Linked DNA regions of Homo sapiens: regions 2 and 3 are each linked to region 1. Evidence: fine-mapped expression QTL. A gene starts in region 1. Each other region holds a variant in brackets. All regions are shown on one strand. Distances are between the middles of the regions. Region 1 holds the start of PLEKHM2 (pleckstrin homology and RUN domain containing M2). Region 2 overlaps DDI2 (DDI proteasomal shuttling factor 2). Region 3 holds the start of SLC25A34 (solute carrier family 25 member 34).

Evidence for each region. PIP is the estimated chance that this variant, and not a neighbour inherited with it, causes the effect.
Region 2: its variant is fine-mapped to the expression of PLEKHM2 in whole blood (TOPMed, PIP above 0.99).
Region 3: its variant is fine-mapped to the expression of PLEKHM2 in whole blood (TOPMed, PIP above 0.99).

What each region holds. Positions count from the first base shown.
Region 1 is chr1:15,680,173-15,688,346 of GRCh38, forward strand. It overlaps PLEKHM2 (pleckstrin homology and RUN domain containing M2), which reads left to right and starts at 4,148. Exons shown (of 20, transcript NM_015164.4): 1 at 4,148-4,446. The coding sequence starts at 4,387. RefSeq lists enhancers at 1-212, 5,072-5,131 and silencers at 4,002-4,081, 4,172-4,251, 4,772-4,841.
Region 2 is chr1:15,636,716-15,644,889 of GRCh38, forward strand. It overlaps DDI2 (DDI proteasomal shuttling factor 2), which reads left to right. Exons shown (of 10, transcript NM_032341.5): 5 at 1,592-1,719; 6 at 6,807-6,935. Among named protein-coding and RNA genes, the nearest start is that of RSC1A1, 19 kb to the right of the region's middle. The variant T/G (reference allele first, on the strand shown) is at 4,154.
Region 3 is chr1:15,729,900-15,738,069 of GRCh38, forward strand. It overlaps PLEKHM2 (pleckstrin homology and RUN domain containing M2), which reads left to right. Exons shown (of 20, transcript NM_015164.4): 14 at 1-30; 15 at 633-823; 16 at 1,293-1,358; 17 at 1,990-2,149; 18 at 2,451-2,630; 19 at 2,713-2,829; 20 at 3,898-4,870. The coding sequence ends at 4,035. SLC25A34 (solute carrier family 25 member 34) reads left to right here and starts at 6,359. Exons shown (of 5, transcript NM_207348.3): 1 at 6,359-6,964; 2 at 8,030-8,095. The coding sequence starts at 6,587. RefSeq lists enhancers at 4,693-5,458, 5,459-6,225. The variant G/A (reference allele first, on the strand shown) is at 3,731.

The DNA of each region.
Region 1 (8,174 bases):
ATAGCTAGAGGCCCTCGGATGCGAACAGACCAGCATGCTTGAGAAACTAAGGTTGGTGGGGCTGGCACACACCAGCGGAGAGTTAGGAGATGAGTCAGGGAGGGAGGCTGGATCAGATCAGCCTTGGAAGCCAGAGAAAAGAGTATGGACTGTATTCTAAATGCTATGACAGTAGGCAGAGGCTGCAGTCAGCTGAGAACACGCCACTGCGCTCCAGCCTGGGTGACAGAGCGAGACTCTGTCTCAGAAAACAACAGGCTGGGCGCGGTGACTCACACCTGTAATCCCAGCACTTTAGGAGGCTGAGGCAGGTGGATCATGAGGTCAAGAGCTCGAGACCAGCCTGGCCAAGATGGTGAAACCCCAACTCTACTAAAAATACAAAAATTAGCCAGGTGCAGTGGCAGGAATCTGTAATCCCAGCTACTTGGGAAACTGAGGCAGGAGACTCACTTGAACCCGGGGGGGGCGGAGGTTGCAGTGAGCCAAGATGGAGCCACTGCACTCCAGCCTGGGCGACAGAGTAAAACTCCATCTCAAAAAACAACAACAACAAAAAATAAGAATAGAATCATTTTTCCTGGGTCACTGATTTGGAAATTAAGGCAAAGTGACTTGCCTGAGGCCCTAGCATGAGTCAGTTGAGGCTTTTAATTCTTGTTGCCTTTTGACTCAGAGTCCCATGCACTTCTCATGAGATCAGAAAAGTCTTGTGCAATAAATGAATGAGCTTCAATTTCCAGCTTAAGTGACTCCCAATAACAAATAAGTATCTTGTGTTTTTCAGAGTCACCCTTTTTTTTTTGGTTTGCTTTTTGGGGTTTTTTAAGAGGTGAAGTCTTGCTCTGTCACCCAGGCTGGAGTGCAGCCACATGAGCTCAAGAGATCCTCCCTCTTCAGCCTCCAAAGCAGCTGAGGCTATAGACATGCACCACCATGCCCGGCTCGCCCTGTGTTTGACACGCAGAACGGATTCCATATTTGAACTCTGGACAAGGAGCAATTAGCTGCACATCAATGCACATTTGGCCTCTCCCTCTTTCCTGCAAGAAGTGTTGTTAGATAACAATGTCTGTTGTACCAGCTCACATACCTATGCAAACCTTAGGAATTTGGTAGACAGTGAGACCTTACATTCCTCTGAATGTTGTAAAATGCTGAATGTGACCATCTCCCAATACATGCAGATAAAAACAATATGGCAGAAATGCCACCACCTTCTTATGTCACAGACCAAGTGGACGCCCCAGGCATACAGCCAAGGAATAAAAATACCCACTGAGTGTACCATGTGCCCAAGCCATGATCAGCCATTCCTAGGGAGGAGGTGCCCAGCAGAACGCAGTGCTCAGCAGAAGATGGCCTGCTATTCAACAGCAGAGAAGAATCCCAAAGCTTGTTGGGTCAGTTTTGGGGGACTGCATTTTCATGAACCAGAGCTGCATCCAGCAGGTTGGGGCCTGTATGCACCCTAGCCAGGATGGAGTGGGAAGGAAGTGCGCAATTCTGACTCCACAAACACCTTTGGTAAGTAGGAGGCTATTTCTACTCATAGATACCTGGCTATTTATTTCCTCATTCAAAGTAATGTGTCCTCTGTCCTCAACCTTTTCTCTACCTATCCAGTGACTGGAGTCTCAACCCTCATCTGTTCTTATTCTGCTCTCTGAATATGAGAGGTAGATAACAACTCCAAAGAGGCTGTTATCTCTTGCTTTCCTGAACTCAGTACAAATAAGAAAACGCCCTGGGCTGGACATGATGGCTCATGCCCGTAATCCCAGCCCTTTGGGAGGCTGAGGTAAGAGGATGGCCTGAGCTCAGGAGTTCAAGACCAGCCTGGGTAACAGAGCGAGGCCCTGTCTCTACAAAAAATAAAATTCGCTGGGCGTATTTTATTCTGTACTCTCAGCTACTGGGGAGGCTGACGTGGGAGGATCCCCCAGGGAGTTCAAGCTACAGTGAGCTATGATCACACCCACCACTGCACTCCAGCCTGGGTGACAGAGTGAGACCCTGTCTTTAAAAAATAATTTAAGGCCAAGGCGGGCAGATCACCTGAGGTCAGGAGTTCAAGACCAGCCTGGCCAACATGGCGAAACCCCGTCTCTACTAAAAATACAAAAAAATTAGCTGGGCGTGGTGGCAGGCGCCCGTAATCCCAGCTACTGGGGAGGCTGAGACAGGAGAATCACTTGAACCTGGGAGGAGGAAGTTGCAGTGAGCTGAAATTGTGCCACCGCACTCCGGCCTGGGTGACAGAGCGAGACTCCGCCTCAAAAAAAAAAAAAAAAATTAGCTGGGCATGGTGTCACATGCACTTGTAGTCCCAGCTACTCGGGAGGCTGAGGCAGGAGAATCGCTTAAAGCTGGGAAGCGGAAGTTGCAGTGAGCAGAGATCGCACCACCGCATTCCAGCCTGGGGAACAGAGCAAGGCTCTGTCTCAAAAACAAACAAAACAAAACAAAACAAAAAAAACAAAAAACAAAGTACCACTATTTTGGGTCTCTCCTTGGGAAACTAAGGGGCTGGGGAGCGACCTTTGGAGGCTTGTGGGGTCCCTCTGAGATAAGCAATGAATCAGTATTTCAGATGCTAAGGGGACTTCAGGGATGGGGTGGCCTGAGCAGAGAAGAGGGAAGACCAGGGAACCAGAGTTGAGAACTGGGGTGTCTGAGAATAAAAAGGAGGGACTAATCTATGTGTCAGGATATATTTATTTGGGAACTTAAGGAGGGAAGAGAGCCAGGTAGGAGACTGACACCTCTAAGTGCAGGGGCTTTATGAGATGGTGGATTTGAGGAGGGTGTGTGGGAAGAGAGTTGTTACGGTGGGTTTCAGGGGCTGAGGGAGTTGAGGCCCTTGGGATACGTGGGGCTGAAGAAGAGGGATAAGGATAAGGAGTGGGAATGGGGCATTGGGGCTGAAGGTGAGGAGGGTGTGTTTTGGGGGTGGGGAGGAACACCAGGGACCTCAAATGTAGGACTGGGCCTTGAGGGTGAGGCACTGAGGAGGGGAGGCTGTGGAGGGCCAGGGGGCCCAGGGAGGGTCTAGGGCTGGGGACTGGAGTCTAGGCTGACCCGGTGGGGGTGCTGGGTCCTCCAGGCTGCGAAAGCCAGGGGGCCTGGGTCTGCACATTGAGGGGGTGGCTGGGCTAAGGAAGGGGAGGAAGATAAGTGGGGCTTGCAGGCTAAGAGGGTCTTGGGGTCCCTGGCCAGAGTTAGTGGGGTGCACTGGGGTCTCCAAGGAGGGGTCTGTGGACTAAAGAGGGCCGGCGGGAGGGGGCCCAGGGTCTGTGGGTGTCTCGAGTCTCTGAGGAGGGCCGGGGTCTCAGGGTCTGTGGGGGTCTCTGGCCTGTGGGGTCGGAGTCTCCAGAGTCCTTGGGGCCTGTGGGAGTCTCTGGGGTTTTGTGGGGGGATCCTGTGGGCTGAGGAGGGCTGTGGGGAGGGTCTCAGGGTCTCTGGGGAGGGCCAGTGCCTCGGGGTCTTTGGGGGTCTCTGAGGAGGGCTGGGGGCCCAGGGTCTGTGGGGGTCCCCAGCAGGTGGGGTTGGGGTCTCCGGAGTCCCTGGAGTCTGAGGGTGTCTCTGAGGTCCCAGGGGGGAGTCTATGGCCTGAGGGCTGAGGGGGAGGGTCTCCAGGGTCTCTGAGGAGGGCCGGTGTCCCGGGCAGGCGGGGTCGGGGTCTCCGGAGTTCCTGGGGTCTGAGGGTGTCTCTGGGGTCCCTGAGGGAATCTGTGGGCTGACGAGGCCTGGGGGAGGGTCTCCGAGGAGGGCCGGGGTCCCAGGGTCTGTGGGGGTCTCTGGCAGGCGGGGTCGGGGTGTCCGGAGTCCCTGGGGTCTGAGGGTGTCTCTGGGGTCCCTGAAGGAATCTGTGGGCTGAGGAGGGCTTGGGGAGGGTCTCTGAGGAGCCCCGAGGTCCCCGGCAGGCGGGGTCGAGGTCTCTGGCGTCCCTGGGGTCTGAGGGTGTCTCTGGGGTGCCGGGGAGAGTCTGTGACTTGAGGAGGGCTGGGGGCGGGTCTCGGGGTCTCTGGGGAGGGCCGCGGCCAAGGGTCTGTGCGGGTCTCCGGGTCCCCGGAGTCCCCAGGCGCAGGCGGGCCCTGGCGCCGCCCCGCCTGACATCAGTTCCTGCCGCCGCCGCCGCCGCGGCGCACAGCCCGCGGCCTCCTTCCCCGCCGGCCGCGCTCCGGAGCCTCCGGGCCGCGGTGGAGCGAGGGCCCAGGCGAGGCGAGGGCCGGGCGGCGGGCGCCGGGCCCCGCGGCCGGCACGACGGAGCCCCCGTACGGCCGGCGGCAGCGGTTGGCGGCGGCCCCCGGCCCCCGGCGCGGGAAGCGGCGGCGGGGCGGCGGCGGCGGTGGCGGTGGCGGTGGCGGCGACGGTGGCAGCGCCATGGAGCCGGGGGAGGTGAAGGACCGGATCCTGGAGAACATCTCGCTGTCGGTGAAGAAGGTGAGCGCGGCCTCCCTCCCGGCCGGGGCCCCTTCCTCGCCGCGCCCCCCACGCCCTCCGGCGGCGCTCTCCCGGGCCGGGGCCCCCCGCCCTTCCCCTCCGCGACCCGGGGGGCGACGAGCGGCCGGGAGCCCCGGGCCGGTAGAGGGGAAGCGGCGCCGCTCACGTGAGCGCCGCGGCCTCGGAGCTATTTTTAAAGAACAAAGTTGAGGTCAGCATCCTCGGAGCTTCCCCAAACCTGGCCCGGGGCCCTGCCCTCCCGGAGAGGGGTCAGCGACCCTCCGGTCCCCCACTGGGGCAGCGGCGCCCCCGGGAGCTCCTGAAGGAACCCCATGCAGCCTCCTGTGGAATCCGCTGCATCCCCGGGTCCCCCCGCCAGGCTGGCGTCGCCCAGGGTCTGGCAGTCAGGGTGGAGGCCAGTGATAAGCAACTTCACTTTCCCATGGCCTGGGTCCCGGCGACATTGCCTCTGCTCCTGGGAAGTCCCCTGAATAATCTTGCTCAAGGATGGTAGCTTTGAAGAGGTTCACTAGGGGCTTTGATTATAAGAACCTGAAGTACATGGGGATTGCATTTTGGATGCTGATCCGGGGAACCGGGTGACACCACAGACACCTTGCTGTGGGGCTTGCCGCAGTAAACATCACTGTCCCAATTCCAGGTAGAAATGAGTACATACCTGTCAAGGGCATGTATTTGTGATGAAGTTGGCATATCCGCAAAAGGGTCCGTGCTAGAAGGTAGAATCCATATTCTGACGTTTTTGGGCTGGATATAAAAATAATAATAATAAATTTAAAAGAATCCATATTCACTGAAAACCTAAATGGCCAAATCAGAATGGATTTTTCTCTCTCTCTCCCTCTCTGTGTGTGTGTTTGTGTAATTTGAATTCCTGGCTCACCAGATAGTCTCAGAAACTGAAAAAAAAAAAAAAAAAAAGAAAGAAAGAAAGAAAAAAGAGAAAGAAAATGGCTTGGGTGAGGGACTCAGCAGCTTATTTTACTTGAAGAAGCAAAATGGATAGAATTAATTAGATCAACCATCATATTTAAATAATTGTCTGTTTTCCCACTGAGATTCCTCAAAAGCAACACAGGCAAGCTATTTTACCTTTCATAAAGATAAATGTGACTTAAAAAGAAAATAGATTCTCGAATTGCCCTTACTGAAAACATTCCTCTAAAAGCACAGCTAAAGTAACATTGCAGAGATCCAACAAGAGTTTTACGTAGTTTTACTGAGCTTTGCTAATGTAATGGGGTATGGTTTTTGCTTACTCAAGGAGGGCAGGATGAGCAAATACTTTGTTGAGAAGCAGTACATCTTTCCTAATGGAAGAGAAAGGAACACAGGTGACCTTTCTAATCTAATCTGGGCTGATTGTGGCTTTAGGTAGGCCCGGCGTTTGTCTTTGGATTTCAAACAAATGAATGGAGAAAGTCTGTGATGGAGAGGCAGTAGACATGGGGCACGCTGTCACATGTATAAGCATGAGTCTTTTGAAGGCAGAGATTCACTTTGTAAGTCAGGCTGTCACTTATGAGTTAGGTGTGTTTGTTGAGGTGCATATAATTGTAGGTGTTTGGACAAGGACACTTATTGAGCTGGAATGCACCCCAGAAAATGTCACACTAGAAACTGCAAACCCATCCCTGGGTGTATCACAACCAAAGCCATGGGCAGCATCATTGTTAGGAGCATGGATTCTGGAGTCCAGCTGCCTGATTGAATCCCCGCCCTGCCAAATTAATAACCCTGTAACCTTGGTCAGGCTTATTAACCTCTCCATGCCCAGTTTCTTCATCTGTAAAGCAGGGATAAAATTAGGGATGTTGTGGAGTGTTTTTTTGTTGTTGTTGTTGTTGTTGTTTGTTTTTGAGACAGAGTCTTGCTCTGTTGCCTGGGCTGGAGGGCAGTGGTGTGATCTCGGCTCACTACAACCTCCACCTCCCAGGTTCAAGCGATTCTTCTGCCTCGGCCTCTCGAGTAGCTGGGATTACAGGTGTGCGCCACCACACCCGGCTAAATTTTTTTTTTTTTTTTTTGAGACGGAGTCTCGCTCTGTCGCCCAGGTTAGAATGCAGTGGCCTGATCTCCGCTCAGTGCAAGCTCCGCCTCATGGGTTCACACCATTCTCCTGCCTCAGCCTCCCAAGTAGCTGGGACTATAAGCGCCGGCCACCACGCCCGGCTAATTTTTTTGTATTTTTAGTAGAGACGGGGTTTCACCATGTTAACCAGGGATGGTCTCGATCTCCTCACCTTGTGATCTGCCCGCTTCGGCCTCCCAAAGTGCTGGGATTACAGGCGTGAGCCACGGCGCCCAGCGTCTAATTTTTGTATTTTTAGTGGAGATGGGGTTTCCCCATGTTGGCCAGGCTGGTCTTGAACTCCTGACCTCAAGTGATCTGCCTGCCTTGGCCCCCCGAAGTGCTGGGATTACAGGCATGAGCCACCGTGCCCGACTACTTTTTGTATTTTTTGTAGAGATGGGATTTCGCCCATATTGGTCAGGCTGTGTTATGAAGATTTTGTTTGTTTGTTTTTTGTTTTTTGTTTTTTTTGAGATGGAGTCTTGCTCTGTCACCCAGGCTGGAGTGCAGTGGCGTGATCTCAGCTCGCTGCAAGCTCCGTCTCTCAGGTTCACGCCATTCTCCTGCCTCAGCCTCCCGAGTAGCTGGGACTACAGGTTACAGGCGCCCGCCACTATGCCCGGCTAATTTTTTTGTATTTTTAGTAGAGACGGGGTTTCACCGTGTTAGCCAGGATGGTCTCGATCTCCTGACCTCATGATCCGCTCACCTCGGCCTCCCAAAGTGCTGGGATTACAGGCATGGTGAAGTTTTAATAAACATGTAGAGTGTTTAGCATGGATCCTGGCCCAGTCTTAACTGGTAGCTTTTTTCTTTGTGCAAGAGCCCATTCCTCAATTTTACAAGGTTTGAAGATGGCTCAACTGCCTCACCACCTAAAGGTCGTTCTACAACACCATTTGTTCTTGGTAGCCACTTCCTTTGTGTGTTTGTTTGAGACAACTGCGATGTGATTCTTGCATCATAAATTACATTTGGTTTTCTGAATCAGAGTGTCTGCTTTACTAGGAACCTGTTAGTTTGGCTACAGCAGTAGACATTGAGGACAGCAGTCTTGGGGTCAGATTTGTCCTTGAATGCCAGTCTCACCTAAATGTGTTATATAGCACCTTGAGAGTTGCTTTGCCTTTTTTCTTGCATCCTACCACCAGTAAATGGTCTTACTGGTCATTTTATAAGGATTTTACGTGAAGAAAATGAGATGCATATTTCTGCAAGGAAAGATCCATTGTGTATTTCTATATTTGCAAAGAGTACTTTAGAACTTTTTATGAAAATGAAGCATGCCTACAGGAAAGTGTACAGGTCCTGAGCGGACAGCTTAATGAGTTCTCACAAAGTGAAAACACCTGCATATCCAGCACCCTGACCAAGAAACAGAACATGACCATTATCCCAGAGGGCCCCTCGTTCCCCTCCCAGAAACTACACCCTCAAAGCAACCACTATCCCCAAGGAGTATTGTTGAGTTCAACTATTTTCACACTTAGATTTTGTGATGGTGAATACCCATTATAACACCAGACAGGTGAAACAGCTGTTAATCCATCTGAATCCAAGGCAACCTGTGTTCTGATATGGACACAGAATTCCTGAGGGTGAGAGAGAACTGGAGAGTTTAATAATTAACATG
Region 2 (8,174 bases), 43 kb before region 1:
TCCCAAAGTGCTGGGATTATAGGCATGAGCTGCTGTGCCAGGCCTTAGTGGACTTTCTATAAATGGGCAGATAGTAAATATTTTAGTCTTTGCAAACCATACAATCTGTGTTGCTCATGTTCAGCTCCGCCACTGCCATGTGAAAGCAGCCATAGACAATAGGACAATATGTAAATGCACTATATCACTGTGTTTCCATAAAACTTTTTTTGCCTAAACAGCAGGCTATGATTTACCAACCCTGGATTTACAGTGTAGGTTATCCCAAATCTTAGAAGCTGTTCTGTTAGTGTCTCAGTCTTCAGGTAAGTTGCCCAACCGCTGACCTAGTTTCCATTAATGTTGGTAGTATTTGATAATGTTTTTAAAAGGAGATTGATTCATGCTGTTTTAAGGGAGTAGAAAAAAATTGGGAATAAACATGAGATGTTGGAGTAAGCAAGAACTCCCTTTTGTTGCTTTTCTCGTGTAAGAATTAGAGTTGTGTTGATTTTTTTGTTTTCTTTTCCTTCCTTTTGGTGGGGAGAGATGGGGTTTCACCATGTTGCCCGGGCTGGTTTGAAACTCCTGAGCTCAAACTCCTGAGCTCAAGGGATCCACCTACTTTGGCCTTCCAAAGAAAGTGCTGGGACTACAGGTGTGAACCACTGCACCTGGCATGTTGATTTTTTTTGTTTTTGGTGTCTCGCTCTGTCGCTCAGGCTGGAGTGTAGTCGTGCGATCTTGGCTGCAACCTCCGCCCCCCGGGTTCAAGCAGTTCTACTGCCTCAGCCTCCTGAGTAGCTGGGATTACAGGTGCATGCCACCATGCCCGGCTAGTTTTTGTATTATTAGTAGAGATGGGGTTTCACCATGTTGGCCAGACTGGTCTTGAACTCCTGACCTCCGGTGATCCACCCGCCTTGGCCTCCCAAAGTGTTGGGATTACAGGCGTGAGCCACCGTGTGCGGCCAGCATGTTGAATTTTTAAACAAATTATTTCATGGATCAAATGAACTATGAAACACATGTAGTTTTAAGTGATGGGTGCAATTTTTTTGTAGCATAAGCTGTTATATGAGCACTGTATACTAGATGCTTTGTACCTCTTGGCAACCTAGGTAACAGTTATCCTTAGTGTACAGATTAGAAAACCCAGTCCTGGAGATGAAGCAGCAGATGCAGCACAAGACGTTGAAATATTTGTGTTTTCTGTTTGTGAACTTTTTGTAATGTTCTGGGCTTAGGAAATGTATTCAGATACCCAGTAAATCCTCAGTTAAAATTGGAACATTCCCGAAATTCTAACATTCTGCCAGAAAAATGGGGTTGTAACCCTTGCTCTCCAGTTTCTTATTTCTGAGCATAGAAAGGCGGCTTAGTGTTTTACAAAGGGTAATTTTTATGCCTTTAGATTTTCTGCCAGCTGTTCATCTTACTGCCTCTTTGGAAATGATCTCTTGCCCCATATAGCACCAATTTTTCTATGACTCGGCTGCTGTGCTTGGGGCAAAAGATATGTACAAATCTGTTTTTTAATATTGTGACTTTGAAACTGATTTCTCTCCATGGAATTAATGCTTTCAGTGTCCCTGGTCTTGTTCTGTTACAGGCAACAGAACATTGAGGAAAACATGACAATAGCTATGGAAGAGGCTCCGGAAAGTTTTGGCCAAGTAGTGATGCTTTATATTAACTGCAAAGTGAATGGACATCCTGTGAAAGCCTTTGTTGACTCAGGTGACGTCTCTGTCTTTTATTTCTTGGTCTCCCCTCCAACATCTTTACCTGACACGGGAGAAGGGGAGGCTCAAGCATCCGTTCAGATGGCTGTACTTTTTTTTTTTTTTTTTTTTTTGAGACAGAGTCTTGCTCTGTCACCCAGGCCAAAGTGCAGTGGCGTGATCTTGGCTCACTGCAACCTCTGTCTCCTCAGTTCAAGCGATTCTCCAGCCTCGGCCTCCCACGTAGCTGGGATTACAGGCGCCAACCACCACGCCCAGCTGATTTTTACATTTTTAGTAGAGATGGGGTTTCACCGTGTTGGTCAGGCTGGTCTTGAACTCCTGACCTCAAGTGATCCACCGTGCCTGGCCCAGATGGCTGTAGTTCTTTAGGCTGCTAACTCACTAGCGTGGGACTTACTGTTTCACTTGCGAGGCATTCTGTTGGTATTAGGTTTCTTTCTTTAATCATTTCTTAACCAGTTTTGTATTTTGTGGTGTCTCCTTTTTCTTCCTAACTCCCCTTATCTAGCATCCTGAATTTCTTGGATGTTTCTGTAAAAAACTGGGAATACATAGGTTTAGAAGAAGGAGCTATAAAAGGAGCTGTGTAGAGTATAGGTCAAACACATTTCAGCCTGGCCTGTGCACCAGCACTTTGCCAAGATTTGGGAGGAGTGTAAGGCTATCTGGGTATGGTTCTTACCCTTAAAGAACTTAACAACCAAGTAAGGAGACAGGGATTCTTCTGCTTGAGGGTTCAGTTAATTCACATACTAGTTGGCACCTTTTCTGTCAGTAACAACCGTTTGCTTTTTAGTAAGACTACACCATGCAGCATTTTGTGGGTGTATGACTGAGTGGTCTCATACATCTTAATTCTGGGTTGTCTCACTCAAGGCTGTAAGATAGGTGAGTTCCTAGAGTAGAAAAATTCCTTGCTCAAATAATATTTTCCCCCTTCACTGTGTATTTCTATATAAAAAGAAAAAAAGTATTTTCTTTCATTTGTTCATCTACACATTCCTGAGCACATGCTGGGTTTCAGCTCTCTCTCTCTCATTTTTTAAAGAGAGGGTCTCTGTCACCCAGGCTAGAGTGCAGTGGTGCAGTCAGCTCACTTCAGCCTCCAACTCCTGGGCTCAAGTGATCCTCCAGCCTCAGCCTCTCAAGTAGCTGGAACCACAGGCATGTGCAACCATACCTGGCTGATTTTTTAACTTTTTGTAGAGACAGGGTTCCCCTGTATTGTGTAGGCTGATTGGGAACTCCTGGCCTCAACTCTCATTAAGAGTTTGTACCTTGAGACTGGGTGTAGTGGCTCATACCTGTAATTCCAGCATTTTGGGAGGGTGAGGTGGGAGAATTGCTTGAGCCCAGGAGTTTTGAGACCAGCCTAGGCAACATGGGGAAACCTCGCCTCTACAAAAAATACAAAAATTAGCCGGGTGTGGTGGTGCGTACCTATAGTCCCAGCTACGGGGGAGGCTGAGGTGGGAAGATCACCTGAGCCTGTGGTGACGGCAGAGGTCAGGGCTTGCAGTGAGCTGTGATTGTGCCACTGTGCCCCAGCCTGGGTGAGTGAGACCCTGCCTTCGGGGGAAAAAAAAAAAAGAGTTTGTATCTTGAGATACAGACATTCCTGGGAGTTTAAAAAAAAACTGAAATTATTCAGTTTAAAAAATATCTGTTGTGGGTAGGGCCTTGTGCTGAGTGCTTGGTGATAAGACTTAGTGACTGGAGCCTCAGAGGTCCCCGTGTGAGTGAGAGACAAATACATAGAAGACGCTAATAGAATACTCAGTGTGTATTGATTCCTTATTGTGTGCCAAGCACCATGCTAGGTGCTTAATATAATCATCTTACTCAATTTTATTTCATCCTCAGAATATCTCTATGTACTTTGTTCTATAATTCCTGTTTTATCCATAAGAAAACTTAGATATAGAGAGGTCACATTCTCTACTCTGTCTTTTACACATAAGGAAACTTAGAGGGATCAAGTCACGCTTCCAGGTATACAGAGTTCGTGAGTGGTGGGCTTTGGATTCAGCCCCAGGTCCCCTTGATGCCAGAAATCTCAACCACTGTGCAAAAATCAGGTGAATGTTGGATGGCTGTAGAGACCACATTCTCACTCTGACCGAGGTGCTCAGGAGAGTCTTTCCAGAAGACAGCATTTGAGCTGAGGCTTTGGAAAATGCAGGAGAGCAGTGAAAGGGGCCCTTCTCATCCTGGGTTGCTTACTTTAATAACTTGGCTTTTGTAAATTAAGAAGGAGGAAGAAAAGAGAGAATTGCCTTTCCAAATTCCCTTTTCCTTCATTATTTCTGGGCCTTTTTGAATCTAATCTTTCTCAAATGCCAAGAACTTTTATTACTTATAAAGTGTAGGGTACCTGTGAGTAATATGAGCAGGAAGTGTTGGAATTGAGTGAGAGGCGAGGTCAT[T/G]GCAAAAGGGCAGTCAGTTAGGGAGGAAGTGGGTCTTGAGCTAGATCTTGAAGCATCGGTGGAATTCAGGAAAAAAAGCAGGGCAGGGACCATTTTACAGGAGGGTCAAAGTGAGTGAATGGCAAAGGGGACATATTCCTCCTGCTGAAGCAGAGGGTTTAGAGTAGTTAGAATGTACGGCTGGAAAGAAATGGTGGAGCCAGGATGGGGTGGGATCTGAAGCTGTGGTGATGGTGGTTTGAAACTAATCTCATAAGGAGTGGAAACCATTGAGGACTTTTAAGCAGATGAAGAAGTAAGTGATTTGAAAATGGTGCTATTGGCCCAGTGCAGTGGCTCAAACCTGTAATCCCAGCACGTTGGGAGGCTGAGGCGGGTAGACCATTTGAGGTCAGGAGTTCAAGACCAGCCTGGCCAACATGGTGAAACCCCATGTCTATTAAAAACACAAAATCAGCCAGGCATGATGGTGGCACACCTGTAATCCCAGCTACTTAGGAGGCTGAGGCAGGACAATAGCCTGAACCTGGGAGGCAGAGATTGCAGTGGGCTGAGATCACATTACTGCACTCCAGCCTGGGCAACAGAGCAAGACTGTGTTTCCAAAAAAAAAAAAAGTGACATTTTAGGAAAACTAAAGGTAGACACAGATCTGGAAAATTCTGTACCCCTAAGGGTCACAACAATATCCTTGCTTTAAATTACGCATCCACGGAGTGGTTTGGAAGCCAGAACAATTGTCCTTTTGCAAGGGAATGGCAGTGTGAGCCAGGCTGATCACTATGGTTAGAAGAAAGAGCATCAGGACAGGCACAGTGGCTCAAACCTGTAATCCCAGCACTTTGGGAGGCCAAGGCAGGTGGATCACCTGAGGTCAGGAGTTCAAGACCAGCCTGGCCAACATGCTGAAGCCCCATCTCTACTAAAAATACAAAAAATAGCCGGGCATGGTGGCACTTGCATGTAATCCCAGCTACTCGGGAGGCTGAGGCAGGAGAATCGCTTGAACCCAGGAGGTGGAGCTTGCAGTGAGCCGAGATTGCACCATTACACTCCAGCCTGGGCAACAAGAGTGAAATTCAGTCTCAAAAAAAAAAAAAAAAAAAAAGGAGAAGAAAGGGCATCAGAAATAGCAGAAATTGCATAGACCTTATTTACAGGTTTGAGAGAAGAAAGACTAGGAGAAGAGTCAAAAGTGAACAGTGCCCAGGTTTTATGGCTGCAAGAAAATAATCCCATTGGCAAACACAGAGAAATCCAAAGTGAGAATTATTTGGGGAGAAAGAGTTTTATGCCTGTTGGCTTTGACAGAAATGTCCAGTGCACAAGAATGTAGAACTAGAGTTTCAGGGAGAAATTAGGACTGTAAAGATTACAGAAGCGACTGTCTTCTACATAGGCCAACCCGCCGTGTACATGTTTCTGGGAGAGAAAATAACCTAAGTGCCCTCATATTTAAAGGGAAGAGAGTCTGATTGTTGGAGCAGAGTATGGGAGTCCACTTCTAAATTTTGGAAGACTGCATGATTTATTAATAGTAGACTATAGTGTCCCAGTGTGGGGTTTTTGTTTTTAATTTTACTTTTTGAGCAGATAAAGTAGTAAATAATGTACTTACTTGTTTACATAGTGAGACGGGATATTGCTATGTTGCCCAAGCTGGTTTTCCACTCCTTGGCTCAGGTGATCCTCCCGTCTTGGCCTCCTGAAGTACGATTACAGGCATGAGCCACTACACCCAGCCCAAAATTTGATATAAAAACAACTTGATAGGGCCAGACACTGTGGCTCACACCTGTAATCCCAACACTTTGGGAAGCTGAGGTGGGCAGATCACTTGAGGTGAGGAGTTCCAGACCAGCCTGGCCAACGTGGTAAAACCCCATCTCTACTAAAAATACAAAAATTAGCTGGACGTGCCGGGTGCAGTGGCTCACGCCTGTAATCCCAGCACTTTGGGAGGCCGAGGCAGGTGGATCACGAAGTCAGGAGATCGAGACCATCCTGGCTAACACAGTGAAACCCCACCTCTACTAAAAATACAAAAAATTAGCCGGGTGTGGTGGTGGGCAACTGTAGTCGCAGCTACTTGGGAGGCTGAGGCAGGAGAATGGTGTGAACCCGGGAGGTGGAGCTTGTAGTGAGCTGAGACTGCGCCACTGCACTTCAGCCTGGGCGACAGAGCGAGACTGTCTCAACAACAAAAAAAAAAACATTAGCTGGACATGATGGCGCAAGCCTGTCAATCCCAGGTACTCAGGAGGCTGACGCAGGAGAATCGTTTGAAGCCAGGAGGCGACGGCTTAGAGATACTCGGTAAGAAGTGCAAAGTACTGCTAATTTAGCATTGCCATCTGTAGACGCAGGACATCACTGCTTTCTACTGGTAAAGTCTTAAAATGTCATTTAATTATTGCATCGCTACAGAATATTCTTCCCTCAATGTCAAATTGTACATCATGTTTCAGATTACAGAGTAGAACTGAAAGTTGAATTAGGCAGGCAGGGCACTTGCTAGGTAGAAATGAGTTTATAGAGACCAAAGCCTTGGGGTGTGCTTGGTTTTCGCTTTGTTATTATTTAGTGCTATATTTTGAGTCTTCTCACAAAGTGGATTTTGTTTTTATTGTCTGATGTTTCTCTACTCCTCCAGGTGCCCAGATGACTATCATGAGCCAAGCTTGTGCAGAAAGGTGTAACATAATGAGACTGGTGGACCGTCGGTGGGCAGGGATTGCCAAAGGAGTGGGCACCCAGAAGATTATTGGAAGGGTACATCTAGGTGAGCAAAAGGCACTGGGGCTTGCTGTCTTTCTGTAGGCTATTTGTAGGTAGGGTAGTCGATTTTCAAGTTTTTAGAGGGTCTTTTGTTGTTATTTTGTTGTTGTTGTTTTAAATTTCTTTTGTGTGGGTATGTCTGAGCTAGCAAGCCTAATTTCTAGAAGTTTTAAATCCTGTGTTCCGTCAAAGTTATGTGTTTCTGCTGGTTGCAAACAAGTAGTCTCCTCTACGTTTCTATTTCCTGAAAATATAATCCCTTTCCGTCATTTTAGCTGATTTATTTTTATACTTACCTCCATATTTCTAAATAACATGTTTATTTTGCTGTTTACTCATATGACTGTGTTTGAGAGCTGAGCTATCTAATTGAATGTGATTGCTTTTCTTTCATGGCTAGTATTATTTTCTCTTAGAATTAATAATTGTCCTGTTTTTCTTACTTGGTTTCTTGCGTAGTATTCATCCCAGACATTTCCTAATTATGTAAATCTCCCTTCAAGCACATCCAATAGCCTCTACATTTCATCCTATCAAAGATACTTCTTGAGCCTGGACTGGCAGTTTCAGGCCTGCTTCAGAGCTGCTGTTTTGGAATTTAACTTGACTGAGTCCTACAGATTCCTTTCTCTTCTGTCTTGTGTTGGATTACATGAATCCCTTGTCTTCCTCTTTTTTATCTGCCCCTCAGTTTATTGGAGTGCATCATCCAGTAACTTTCTTAGAAGAGGTGCATGGGAGTAAATTGAGACTAATTATCAGACATGTCTTTTTTCCCTACATTATACTGGTCTGCCTAGGTTGGAAATCATTTTCCTTCACAATTTCGAGGCATTGCCCCTTAACCTTTTCACTGTCAGTGTTGCTGTAGTGAGGCTGGATTCTGTTCCGATTCTTGATCCTTTATGTGAAAGTTTTCTTTTTCTTTTCAGTTTTTTTTGTTTTTTTTTTTTTTTTTTTTTTTTGAGACGGAGTCTCACTCTGTCGCCCAGGCTGGAGTGCAGTGGCGCTATCTCGGCTCACTGCAAGCTCCGCCTCCTGGGTTCACACCATTCTCCTACCTCAGCCTCCTGAGTAGCTGGGACTACAGGCGCCCGCCACCGCACCCGGCTAATTTTTTGTATTTTTAGTAGAGACGGGGTTTCACCGTGTTAGCCAGGGTGGTCTCCATCTCCTGACCTCGTGATCCGCCCGCCTCGGCCTCCCAAAGTGCTGGGATTACAGGCGTGAGCCACCGCTCCCG
Region 3 (8,170 bases), 50 kb after region 1:
AAATTTGTGGCCCAAGAATCGAAGTGTGAGGTAAGAACCTGGGGAGGAAGCTGAGTGCAGCCCCTGAGATGGCAGAGCAGCAGCCGCCTTGGCGTGAGCGTTAAGGGATGCACGTGGATGTCTTTGCCATTTCACAATCGCCTACCTGGGCGGGGCGGGGCGGGGCGGGGCGGGGCGGGGCTTTCCCACCCTGGAAGGGAGGAAAGTCATGTCCACCTTCCTACCTGGGGTGTGTCCTAAGGTTAAGACACCCTCGCTCGGCAGGGCACAGTGGCTCACGCCTGTAATCCCAGCACTTTGGGAGGCCAAGGCAGGCGGATCACCTGAGGTCAGGAGTTCGAGACCCGCCTCGCCAACATGGCAAAACCCCGTCTCTACTAAAAATACAAAAATTCAGCCAGGCGTGGTGATGGGCGCCTGTAATCCCAGCTACTTGGGAGGCTGAGGCAGGAGAATTGCTTGAACCTGGAAGATGGAGGTTGCAGTGAGTGGAGATCACACCACTGCAGTCCAGCCTGGGCGACAGAGCGAGACTCCATCTCAAAAAGAAAAAAAAAGAACCAGTCCGGGCTCAGCCACCTGCCTGGCCCAGGCCTTACTTGCTTTGTCCCCCGTGCCCGCCCCCGCATCAGGCATCTGCTGTCACCGTGCGCTTCTACGGCCTTGTGCACTGGGAGGACCCCACAGACGAGTCCCTGGGCCCCACGCCCTGCCACTGCTCACCCCCCGAGGGCACCATCACCAAAGAAGGCATGCTGCACTACAAGGCGGGCACCTCCTACCTGGGCAAGGAACACTGGAAGACGTGCTTCGTGGTGCTCAGGTGGGAGCCCTGGCAGCTCTAGGCCTGGGGCTTGGGCCCTGGGGTGGCTGGGCTGTCAGGTCCCCAGCGGGGATCTCTCCGCAGCAGGTCACTGAGGGAGCAGCCTGAGGAGAGGACGCCTCCCTTCCCTACCAGAGCTTGGAGTTGACTTAGCTCAGGCTGTTAGAGCTTCTCTGTAGAGCCAGTCATCTTTGGGGCCCCAGGAATCCCTGAGTGCCTCAGGGGAGGATGCAGGCTTGGTCCCCCGATGAACCTTGAGCTGCGCCCCAGGTCTGCTGAGGTGGCCACATTCCCTGCTGGGCCCCCAGGCCCTTCTTCACCCTGCCTTCCGTAGATGACAGCCCCTGGTGTCCTTTGCCTCAGGTTCATGGCCGCAGCATGTGCGTGGGAGGGGAACCCTGGGACCTGGGCTCCGCCTGGCCCCAGTTCCTGGGACAGGCCTCACTCGCCCTGTGTTGTGCCCCTGCAGCAACGGGATCCTCTACCAGTACCCGGACCGCACCGACGTCATCCCTCTGCTCTCGGTGAACATGGGGTAAGTGTCCCGGGAGAAGCGGGTGTATCCTGGGGCCCAGAGCTGCCGTTTCCCTGGTTTGAGATGGCTGCCCCTGTTGGCAGTTCAGCCTCGCCCTCAACCCCACCCCATCCAGCGGCCCTGACAGGTGGCCTGGGGCTTCCACGCTCTGAGGGCTGCAAGGAGCCCACAGGAGGGGAGGAGGGAGGCAGCAAGGAGCTCCTGGCTTAGAACAGGTCCAGTCTGATGGGGGAGGCAGGCCCTTCCCCAGAAGCTCCCGGCCTGATGGGAGATGGACGTTCGGGTATTTGGGAGGAACAGCAGGCCCTCAAGAGGAAGCATGCGTGAATGAATGCGGCCGATTCTCAGAGGGCCAGTGGGACAGCTGATTCCCAACCCCTCCTGGCCATGCTTGGGTATCTAGAGGATCTTGGGCATCCTGGAGGTGAAAGGCATCGCACAGCAAGGCGGTGGGTGGGGCTCCCAGACCTCTCCTGGGAGCTGGAGGGGCCTGGAGAACCCTCTGGTATCCTCCAGCCCCCAAGACGGTGGGGCAGACCCTGTGCCGCACACCCCGCACCAACCCTGGGGGCTGTCGCCCCGTGCTGCCCTTGCCTCCTCGCTCCCGTTTCACCCTCCTCCTCTGGCCCAGGGGGGAGCAGTGCGGTGGCTGCCGGAGAGCCAACACCACGGATCGGCCCCACGCCTTCCAGGTCATTCTCTCCGACCGGCCCTGCCTGGAGCTAAGTGCCGAGAGCGAGGCCGAGATGGCCGAGTGGATGCAGCATCTCTGCCAGGCTGTGTCCAAAGGGGTGAGCTTCGCCTGCCCCTACCGCTCACCTGGCTTGCCTGACCCACCCAGACCCCCAGGGTCCCATCCCTAAACCCATAGTCACAGAGCAACCTGAGGGCCAAGACGGACCTCCAGGGGGCAGCCCAGGAATGGACCCTGGAGCTCAGAGGCATCACCCCCATCCCCGCCTCTGCTCCCGATCCCTGGAGGGAGATCCCTGGAGGGAGAGCAGAAGGGCTGGCTGGTCCCCTGGAGTGTGGACTTCTGGTGCAGACCAGCCCTGGAGGCCCCAGCCTGCCTCTCCCCTGCCCCGCTGCCAGGTCATCCCCCAGGGCGTAGCTCCCAGCCCCTGCATACCCTGCTGCCTGGTCCTCACGGATGACCGCCTCTTTACGTGCCATGAGGATTGCCAGACCAGCTTCTTCCGCTCTTTGGGCACAGCCAAGCTGGGCGACATCAGCGCCGTCTCCACCGAGCCGGGCAAGGAGTACTGCGTCTTGGTGAGCTTTGAGTGGGGGCGGGGCTGCAAGGCCTGCAGAAGGAAAGCTCTGGCTGCTCACCCGGGGGCCTGGCTCTCCCTAGGAGTTCTCCCAGGACAGCCAGCAGCTCCTCCCGCCCTGGGTCATCTACCTGAGCTGCACTTCTGAACTGGACCGATTGCTGTCTGCACTGAACTCTGGGTGGAAAACCATCTATCAGGTACCCAGCTGCCCAGGAAACCCATTAGCCAGGGACCCTGTGGAGTGGGAGCCACTCCCCGGGGAGAGGAACCCCTGCTGCTCCCAGGACTTGGCCCTGCCTCCAGGGTCCTGGGCACAGCCATGTACCAGGGCGCTCCTGCCTCAGCCCCGGGGGTGAGTGCCTGCTGCTCTTAAAACAAACCCAGAAGAGTCCTCACTGTCCTTGCCGTCTCTTGCTGCGCACAAGCCTGCCAGGCTGGGAGCCCGAGGCCCTCAAGCCACTCAGCATTGCTGCCTCAAGGGCCTGGGAGGGAAGGGGTGGGCCCTGGGAGGTGGGTGTGGGACTCCAGCCCCGGTGGTTCTGCCTCTGGTTTGGACTGGGCCTTGGGTGATTGAGGGTGGCCTGGCAGGAGAGAGCTGTCTGGGGGCAGAGGCCAAGGTGGGCATGTTGGTGCCAGCCCCAGACTGAGCAGACACACCTGACAGGCACAAAAACTTAGAATCAAAAGGACAAAACCCTGACTCCCAGTGAGTCTGAGGCCAAAGCTGAAAACAGAACCCAAGAAGCTTAATTCCTGACCTCAGTTCCAATCAAACAGCACGAATTGTGGTGGACCTCCAGCTGTGCTCAGATGGGGGGACACAATATTGGCAGTACCCTCTTCCTTGCCCTCCAGGCTGAGTGCCAGTGTGGGAGCGTGCTCATGAGAGCCCTGCACAAGCGGGTTTTGAGCACATGCTACGCTCTAGCCCCGTGGAAGCCTGGACTAGTTAGAGGCAGAGAACAGCTCAGGACAGACACCTCCCTGCAGAGCCAAACAGAGTGCAGCGCCTGCCTCGCTGGGCCATCCTGAGAGCTGGGGCCTTCCCAGGAAAGAGGGAGCTCGGGGGGCACCACCCCATCCTCAGCTCAAGCCCCT[G/A]GAAGAGCGGGAGAAACTAGCAGCGTGGAAGATGTTCCCAGGGAGAGATGGGGAGGGCCTGACAGGGGCTCCGTGGCCAAGGCAGAGGCAGGCCTGGTGCCCACAAGCCCTGAAGACTCCTGTGGCCCTCAGTGGCCCTCATCTGTTCTCTGCACGCCCCAACACAGGTGGACCTCCCCCACACGGCGATCCAGGAAGCCTCCAACAAGAAGAAATTCGAGGATGCCTTGAGCCTCATCCACAGCGCCTGGCAGCGGAGCGACAGTCTCTGCCGCGGCCGAGCCTCCCGAGACCCCTGGTGCTGAGGCAGAGCTGGTTGGCGTCCCTGGTGGGCAGGAAAGGAAGGCACGCCAGCCGGCAGGCACACTGTCACGGCTGTTGTCATGCTGTCGGGAGCCTACAGTCCACCCCTGCCCTGGGCGGCAGAACCACCGAGTGTGGCTTAAGACAGGGTCCCTCCACTCCAGGGATCCAGATCAGGTGCCCGGCACCCCTGGGCATCCTGCCCGACAGGTAGCGAATGGAGGTCGCTGGGGGCAGAGGGTCCGAGCCCTGTGGGCTCTGCGGATGCACGCCCTCCTCCCGGGCCTCCGCCTCAGTCTGCAGAATTTCTGCCGAGTGGCACCGAGAACACCATCCATCTAAGGACGAACAAAAGAACCAGGAGGGCGGGACCCCCCTCTTCCTCTCCTGGGTTGGGGGCTGGGGCCCTGAGTGCCCAGCCATCCTTGTTCGTGTTTGAACACTCTCCTGGCCACGTGGGGAAGCGGGAACACGGGGTGTCTGCGCATGTTTCCTCCTCCTAGCTCCATCACTGCGCACACAGCTGCCTGCCTCGCCAGATGCAGGGGGGCGGGCAGCCCTCCCTGGCTGCCAGGAGGCTCTGCATGCCCACAGTCCTGCCCTGCCTGTCCCCTCAACCCGGCAGTGCCTGTAGCACCGAGGAGCAAAGGGGGTGGATGGGGGGCTTGGAGAAGGGCGGAGCCCACCAGCCTGGCATCCATGTTGACATCTTCTGACTGTCCCCTGCTTGGCTGGAGCCAGGCCCTTCCCTAGAGTTTCGTCAAGAGCCTCCTGGGGAAGGGGTCAGGTGGTTTGGGTTTTGTTTTTTAAAATAAAATAGACATGTTATATTGCCAAGGCTTGTCACTGGCCCTTTTTGAGCAGGGTAGGGGAAGGGAGCTCTCCAAATCCCTTGGGCCCTTTTCTGCAAACCTTCCTCCATCATCTGCCCTGTGCCTGACACAAGGGACACACGGGACATGCAGAACCAGATCAGCCACCGCTGCCGGGCGGACTCACCGTCTGCAGACCCTCAGGCCCTGGGAGTTTCTCGGCCCGACCTTTGCCCTCCGTCCTGTTCCTGTTTGCTGCAGCAGCCAGGGGAGGAGCAGCCACCAGCTCAAGCCCCAGGGCACGTCTGCACCGCCGCCCACCATCTGCAGCCCACCCCGGGGCAGGACGCTCCTGCCTCCACAGCCCCGGGGGTGAGTGCCCAAACCCAGGAGAATCCAAGCTGTCCTCGCTGCCTCTTGCTGCGCCGTCCCCTCCAGGGCTGGCCAGAGGGTGACAACCCTGCCAGGCCGGGAGCCTGAGGCCCTCAAGCCACTCAGCATTGCTGCCTCAAGGGCCTGGGAGGGAAGGGGTGGGCCCTGGGAGGTGGGTGTGGGACTCCAACTTGGGTGGTTCTGCCTCTAGTTTGGACTGGGCCTTGGGTGACTGAGGGTGGCCTGGCAGGAGAGAGCTGTCTGGGGGCAGAGGCCAAGGTGGGCATGTTGGTACCGGCCCCAGCCTGAGCAGACACACCTGACAGCTGGCCCAGGTGGCGTTCTCTTCTCAGCGGGCACAAAGGGCATCCCAGGGCAGGCCTGGCAGCAAGTCCTTACCAGCCAAGGTCACTCCTCAAGTCCTACTCACCCAGGTGCCCTGAAGTCCTGGGAGCAGCGAGGGGGGCATAGGAGCCAGAGGCAGTGGGGGTGGGGGCGAGCAGGCGATGCGGGTGCCTTTATCGGGTGCAGCACTGACCTAGGCACACTCTTCTCATCGCCAGTCCTCCACAGAACCTTCTGGAGTGGATGTCAGTATCTCCATTTTACAAATGAGAGAAACTGAAGCTCTGAGAGGAAGTGACTTGCCCAGGGGTCACACATGAGAGCCACACCTGGGATTCCAATCAGCTCCCCAGGGCTCCAGAGCCCTTCTCTACTTCTGACCCTGCTGAGCATGGGCCTATAGACGGTGGGAGCCAGACTGAAGACTTGAGTCCTGGAAAGGGGAAGTCAGTCACCAGGGGCATATCAGGGGCAGGGTGGGGCAGGGGCGGAGTTGGCCGTGTACCCCATGCCAGGGACCTCCCAGTCACTTGCCCCCTGCCTAGGGCTCTGCCAAAGCTGGACAGGCTAAGCCAGAGGCAAGGCAGGGGTGCCAGCCCTTTGCCCAGGGCCAGAGGGAGGCCAGGAGGAGGTGCCTGGGCTGGTTGGCACCTTCTCCCTATCCACGCTCTCCCTCCAGTCCCAAGTGACCTTTCCCCCAGATCCCAGGGTCCAGGCCCGCCCTCGGCTGGCAGGTGTGGGCACAGAGGCAGCTGGGATTGGTCGCAGCTGGCGGAGGCGCGTCCCAGGCTCCGGCAGACCGCTGGAACAGCTGAGCAGAGCAGGTGGACTGCTGAGATAGACCAGGGACACCAGGCAGCCACAGGCCTGTCAGACCAGGACCCTTACCCTCTAGACATGGCCTCGGTCCCCTGCAAACCCCAGCCCCGTAGCCCTGCGAGGTTACAGACAGCCTAAACGCCACCACCACAGGGCCTGTGCCGTGCCCCTGACCCGGGCACAGAAGGCCACTGGCCCGGAGGCCATGGAGACGGTGCCCCCAGCAGTGGACCTGGTGCTGGGTGCTTCTGCCTGCTGCCTGGCCTGTGTCTTCACCAACCCCCTGGAGGTGGTGAAGACGCGGCTGCAGCTGCAGGGGGAGCTGCAGGCCCGGGGCACCTACCCACGGCCCTACCATGGCTTCATAGCCTCTGTCGCTGCTGTGGCCCGAGCAGACGGGCTGTGGGGCCTGCAGAAGGGGCTGGCTGCCGGCCTTCTGTACCAAGGCCTCATGAATGGCGTTCGTTTCTACTGCTACAGCCTGGCGTGCCAGGCTGGCCTCACGCAGCAACCAGGTGGCACCGTGGTTGCGGGAGCCGTGGCGGGGGCACTGGGAGCCTTCGTGGGGAGCCCTGCTTACCTGGTGAGTGGCTTGTCTCCATCGTCCACCCTCCACCATCCCATGACCCAGCTCCCACAGGGGCCCTGCAGCCTCCAAAGGCAGGGCTCAGTGGACCTGGGTGGGGTGGGGCAGCCGGGGTGGGGCTGCTCCCTGGAACATCCTAGCCCAAGCCTGGAATCTGCCCCTTGGCCCAGGGCCTTGCTCTGATCCATGCTCCCCTGCGGTCCCTGCCCCACTGGTCCTGAGCCAGGGGAGGGGGCAGAGGGTGTCAGATGTGCTGGCTCAAATCCTGGCTTGGTTACTTCTCTTCCCGCATGGCCTCATGTACGATAAGAATAAAAGCTACCCTTGAGGGCCTCCGCCTCGTGTGCACTCTGCAGGGGGGCCTCAGGGCCACCCAAAACAAATAAAAAATTAAAAAATGTTTTGAAGAAAGCTACCCTTGGCTGGGTGCAGTGGCTCACGCCTGTAATCCCAGCACTTTGGGAGGCCGAGGCGGGCAGATCACCTGAGGTCAGGAGTTTGAGACCAGCATGGTCAACATGGTGAAACCCTGTCTCTGCTAAAAAGTACAAAAATTAGCTGGGCGTGGTGATGCATGCCTGTAATCCCAGCTACCGGGGAGGCTGAGGCAGGAGAATCACTTGAGCCCAGTTGGCAGAGCTTGCAGTGAGCCAAGATCATGGCACTGTACTTCAGCCTGGGCAACACAGCAAGACTCTGCCTCAAAAAAAAAAAAAGGAAAGAAAGAAAAAAAAAGCTCCCCTTGAGCAAAGGCTCGCCTTGCCCTTGGCTGGTGCTGGAGGATCATTGTCTCACTTAATCCTCAGAACAGCTTTCCAACCGTGACAGAATTGAGGCCCAGAAAAGGTTAAGTAACTTGCTCCAAGTCACACTGAGACGCAAAACCCAGGCCAACCCCAGAGCTGCACCTCAACCCTATTTCACTTGACCCCTAAGCTTCAGGCTCGGGACCATGGAGCTGTGAGTTTCAGGGGCACGGGGGCAGGGCGCCCTCAACACACACAGCTCACCCTGGCTCTCCCAGGCTCCATCCCCACACCCGTGTCCTCTCTGCTCCCATAGATCAAAACGCAGCTGCAAGCTCAGACAGTGGCCGCAGTGGCCGTGGGACACCAGCACAATCACCAGGTGAGGCCTGCCACTCTCAGAGCTCCCTGGGGGCATGGATTGGGCATGCTCCCAGCCTAGGCAGGGGTGGCCAGT